2 separate regions of the Homo sapiens genome follow, and region 2 is linked to region 1. The links come from fine-mapping of genetic effects on gene expression. Tissue or cell type: esophagus mucosa. Region 1 holds a variant in brackets; the other region holds the start of a gene. All regions are shown on one strand. Distances are between the middles of the regions.

The links. PIP is the estimated chance that this variant, and not a neighbour inherited with it, causes the effect.
Region 2: it holds the start of TMIE, and the variant in region 1 is the best candidate, but not a certain one, in a credible set for the expression of TMIE in esophagus mucosa (GTEx, PIP 0.71).

What each region holds. Positions count from the first base shown.
Region 1 is chr3:46,675,703-46,678,383 of GRCh38, reverse strand. ALS2CL (ALS2 C-terminal like) reads left to right here. Exons shown (of 26, transcript NM_147129.5): 16 at 1-125; 17 at 1,362-1,535; 18 at 1,646-1,742; 19 at 1,982-2,139. Among named protein-coding and RNA genes, the nearest start is that of ALS2CL, 17 kb to the left of the region's middle. RefSeq lists an enhancer at 2,056-2,604. The variant T/C (reference allele first, on the strand shown) is at 1,576.
Region 2 is chr3:46,700,105-46,702,785 of GRCh38, reverse strand. TMIE (transmembrane inner ear) reads right to left here and starts at 1,394. Exons shown (of 4, transcript NM_147196.3): 1 at 1,206-1,394. The coding sequence starts at 1,298.

The sequences.
Region 1 (2,681 bases):
GTCACCTTCCCCAATGGCTTCACCCTGGAGGGCTCGTTCGGCAGTGGGGCAGGGAGAGGACTGCACACACAGGGTGTGCTGGACACGGCTGCCCTCCCACCAGACCCGAGCAGTACCTGCAAGAGGTGAGTGCCTGGCCCCTCTGGCTCTGGGCCTATCTGGGGATGTGTCTGTGTTTCCATCCCAAAGACTCAGGTCTCCTCAGAGGGGCCTTTTTGCACCCACCTCTTAGCCCTCTAGAGAGTTCCGAGAGCCCAGGGTGTACAACTCCAGTCAGAGACTCTTGGGATCAGGGGCTGTGTGGATATAATGCGGTACACCACAAAACTGGAGAGAAATATTATTTGTAGGCTTTGCTTAGGTCCTGCTTTTTTTTTTTTTTTGTCTCGAAAGGATACAATACGGTTTACAAACCAAACATACAGGAAAAAAAAAATAGAAAATAAGAGCATATGTTAACCTTAAAAGAAAGGGATATGTAGACATGTCCTACGGCATTTACAACTGATCATTGAGCCTGGCTCTGAGTTTCCTGGCAGCCAAGGTAAAGAAGGAAACTTGCTAAGTGGAATCACAGTCATTATCAAGGAGTATTCCAGAGAAGGATAGACTTCTTTTCCTGTAGGAACAGAGTTCCTCCTTGGAAAACAGTTGCTCTTGTTGCGTCTGTTGAGGAAGACTCAGTATTGCACAGAGGAAGGAATCTGTGTGGGTGGCAGTTCTAATGGGAAGTGGTCCCAGGCAGCATTTCAGATGTAGGGAGGGAGTACAGTTGACTACTTGGCCCGCTGTCCCTGCATGCTGCTTCTCCCTGACAGCAGGAGCTGGGAGTGGACAGCAATCCCTAGGGGCAGGCCCCAGCCTGGGTGTGAGTGTGGGCTGCGTGTAGCCTACGAGCATGACACTGGAGTGCAGGGCTCCATTAGACATGCGCAGCCAGGCCCCAGCCTGTTGGCCAGGGCGGGATCAACCACAGGAAGGAACCAGCTGTAAGGGAGGGCAGAGGGGGATGTCTTGGAGGGGAATCCCAGACTTTGGACACTGGTCTCTCTTGGACCAAGACCCCCTCTCTGGCTTGGCCTCCAGATCTGCCCACCTTTCTGTCTCCGTCTTTCCAGGATTCCATATGCTTCTGTCTGTCTTCTCGTCGCAGGGTAGATTCTCTGTCCCTTTCTCTGCTGCTCTTCCTCCTGGAGCCGTGGAGGTCAGCCCCCTCTGCATGGTTCAATCCATCCACCCTTCTTGGGGCTTGATCCTGGGCCAGGCTCATACCCCCACCCCTCCAAGGGCCTGGGCAGAGTCCTGCCTACCTCAGCTCCATCTCTCTCTGCCCCATCACCCACCCTCCATCCCCATCGCAGGCAGCTGGGCGTGGGTGCCTTCCCCGTGGAAAGCCGCTGGCAGGGAGTCTACAGCCCCTTCCGGGACTTTGTGTGTGCTGGCTGCCCCAGGGACCTGCAGGAGGCCCTGCTGGGCTTCGACGTGCAGAGCTCCAGGGAGCTGCGTAGGTCTCAGGATTACCTGTCCTGCGAGAGGTGAGGCCGGCTGTGTGAGCATGCACAGGTTAGGGTGGGC[T/C]GGGGAGGGCTTCCTGGGGGGAGGGGGCTGGGCCGAGGTGTGGGTGAGGGATGCTGTGTGTGGTGCCCAGGACCCACCCTGAGGACAGTGTGGGCAGTATGGAAGACATCCTGGAGGAGCTGCTGCAGCACCGGGAGCCCAAGGCCCTGCAGCTGTACCTCAGGAAGGTGAGAGCCCTGCTGGGGTGGCCAAGGGGGTGACATTGTCACTGTCCCTGGTGGGGAAGGGCTCCCATTTTTCATAGCAGGGTGCTGACTGAAGGGGACAGGCCTGTGGATCCCTTGTCCTCAGAGGACCTCAGTGTTCTCGTGTATGAGATGGGAGAAGTGTTGGGAGGCTGGTGTGGGCATGCTGTGCTCCAGACCCCAGTGCTTAGTCTCTCTCTGTTGCCTATGCACTGGCCCAGGCTCTGAGCAACTCACTGCACCCCCTGGGAAAGCTGCTCCGGACACTGATGCTGACCTTCCAGGCTACCTACGCAGGTGTCGGGGCCAACAAGCACCTGCAGGAGCTGGCCCAGGAGGAGGTGAAGCAGCATGCCCAGGAACTCTGGGCTGCCTACAGGTGGGCTCGGTGGCAAACGGGACAGCTACTGCCCTGTGACACTAGTGTGCCCTTTCCAGGCATCAGTTCTGCCTTGCATTTGGGAGGAATGCCAAGTGTCTGATTCAACAATGAACCAGAGGCTTGGTCAGTGTGCAGCTGCTGAGCAAAAGGGTTAGAGGGTGGGGAGGTGAGAGCAAAGGCCCAGCTGCAGCCCTCAGCTAGAGTCCAAGACCCAACCAGGCGCTGGGCTGACTCTGACCGCAGGTGCACTCTCACCCCACTGTAGGCTGAGCTTGGCCCTGGACTCGGAACACACCTGCAGTCCCAGGCTGGGCTGTGACCCCATGAAACACTGCAAATAGAAGCCTTAGATGCTATAGTTCCTTCTGCTGCTGGATTCTCAGGCTAACATCCTGGAGCTCCAACCTTCTAACTTCTGTGGTTTGAGAGGATGAACCCTGCAGGCCATGTCCACAGTTCTGAGAGGCCACCTGCTTTTGCCTTTGTTGACTGGTGGTAGAACTCCAGTTCTGTGGCAAGGGGCAGCCACACCATTTCTC
Region 2 (2,681 bases), 24 kb before region 1:
GCAACAGCAGGGACAGGCTACATCTGGGTCCAGGGCTCTGTCCCTATGTCCCCATCAAACCCTCCAGTTCAGGGCTGTGTCCCCCCATAACAACTTCCCCATGGCTCTGTCCTCTCTATCCCACACTGTCCCCAAGCCCCCACCCCTCAGGACTTCCCTGGGCACCTCTCACTGCCTCTTGCATTTCTGTTTTCCTGCTCCCTCTGGTCCGCCCCTGCCTGCACAGCCTCCATCCCCTGCTCCTCCCTGGCCCTGGCTCCTGGGCCTTCTCCCTCTGGCCTCACAATTCAGAACTCTAGGTCTGGTCTGCCAGCTCCCTCGTTGGCTCCCCTTTCAGGCTCCGCAGGAGTGGGGTACAAGGGGGTTAGGGAGGCTACAGATGGCCCCACCCTTCCTGGCCCCAGCCAGGCTCTCCACCAGGGCTCTCCCCCAGCTTCTGTGCTATCTCAGCAGCTCCTCCCACCTCTCCCACTGTGTGCCTGCTCCCAATTTACCCTCCTTCCAAACCAGAACTCATCATGACTTGTCCCTGAGCAGAAACCTTCTAAAGCTCCCGGTTATCACCAGGACCAAGTCAGACTTCCCAGTCCCTAGGTCCTGCCCTGCCTGCCCCTCTGGACCTAGTGCTCCACATAGCTTCTCTGTAAAGGGTCTCCTCATCCTGCTGCCCCCACCCTCCAACTTGGAATGCCCTCGTCTCCATCTTAAGGCTATGTCTCCCCCTCCATTAGACAGGGGTCCCTGGAACATCTCTGGAGATAGAGGCTGTTGCCTCCAGAAGACCCTAAATTCAGGGTCTGTTCCATCAGACTAGAGGTCCAGGAAACCCAGGGCTGTGCACCTCCCTGCCAGTGAGACCAAAGGCTGGAGGATGGGGGCCCAGTATCCCCCATCAGTCTGGGCAGGGCTGTGTCCCCAAGTCAGGCTGGGAATCCCTAAGGTCAAGGTGAGTCTCCCCCGTCAGACTAATGTTCCAGAAATCGGGTACTGTGCCCTTCCATCAGACCAGGGACCCTAAGAGTGGGGCTGAGTCTCTCTCACAGCCTGGCAGGGCTTGGGGCAGGGCTGCATCGCCCGGGAGACTGGATCTCTCAGGGCAAGAGTAAGGGATCAAACAAGCTCCGGATCAAAAAGGCGTCCCCTCTCCCCCAGCCCCCTGCCTGGAGGGTGACAGCCTCCCCAGTCCCTCCGTGCCGCGGCCTCACCTCCACCAGCTGCCCGGCAACCCCCGCGAGGCACACCCCGAGTGCGGCGCCGCCCAGCACGCAGAGGGGACCCGCGCCCGGCCACCCCGCCATCTTCGTGCCACCGCGCCGCTTGCGGAGCCCAGGGACGAACGGGCCGGCCGCCGGTCACTGCCCCTGCCAGCCGGCGCTCGGTGGCCACGGGCTTTGGCCACGGGTAGTCAGCGAGCATCATTTATTCATCCTCGGTGTCAGGTTCCCGCGCCGCCCGCCCCCGCCATCGCTGCGGTGGAGGGCCCGCCCCCTCCTTCCCGGGAGATCGGGCCGCAGGCTCCCCCTCCCTGCCCCCACCTTCCGCATCCCCAGGGACACTGAGGTGGGGGTGGGCGGGAGGGAGGACAGGCTGGGGCCAGGTCCCTAATCAACAGGTCCCCCTCCCTTCTGCAAATGGGCCTCAGTTTCTCCATCTGGGACAAGGGGGTGGGACTGGAATCTGCTGATCTAGGAGGCCCTTCCCATTCTGTCATGCTGGATTTGAAAAATATACTGGATTTGAGTTTGGGGGGGGGGCAGAGCGGGCAGGTTGCCATGGTGACAGGCGCTCAGGGATGTCCTGGGCTTTCTGGCTTGGCTTCCTGCCCAGAGGCGGCTCTGGTCACCCTGGACACCAGAGCTGGAGAGCAGGGGATGGTATGGTCAGAGCTGCCAGCCGGCAGTGTTATGGAGGGTTCCAGAAGAAGCCAGCATCTTCAGCCCCACAGGACAGAAGTGGGCTGTCCCTGGAAGGGCTGGAGGACCATTTTCTGACCCTGGCTGCCCTCAATCTCTGCCCCAGCCTGAACACTGACTCTGACTTCAGTCTAAGCCAGGACCCTGACCTCATGCTGAAGTTGACCCACACTGCACTCTGGCCCTGACCCCATGTTGAGCCTTGACAACTGAGGGACAGAGGGAGGTTCTGAGGAGATGTAGAGACCTGGGTGGGGGCTGAAGACTTAGGAAGAGGAGTGGGGAGGCCTGGAGTTGGTAGACTCCCCTTCCCTCCTTTTCTTCCTTCCTTCTATTCTTATTTATCTCCTGCTGCTGAGTGTTAGGAGAAGCAGCCCAGGTGTTGGGCCCCTGGAACCCTTATCACCAGGGGCACTGGTGAAGGCCTGCGCAGGCTGGGGATGGCCCAGCAAGGCCTGCCCTGAGAACCAGGGAGACCCTGTGGCTCCAGAGCCCTGTGAGGTTCTGGCCTGGACATGCCATGAATGGGCAAGGACCACAGCAGGCTGCAGCAGGGAGCGGAGGGCCACCTGCGGTCACCTGCCAGTGTCAGGGCCCGGAGATGACAGCCAGGCAGGAAAACGAGAGCTGTTGGAGAAGGACTGCAGCCCAGGAGACCCATCGAGGAAACGCTCAACAGTGGGAGGTAAAGTCTGGGGACTGAGTGGGCTGGGCCACCCAGTCCTCCCCAGGCATGCCCTGGCCAGGCAAACAGGAACTCTGCTAAAA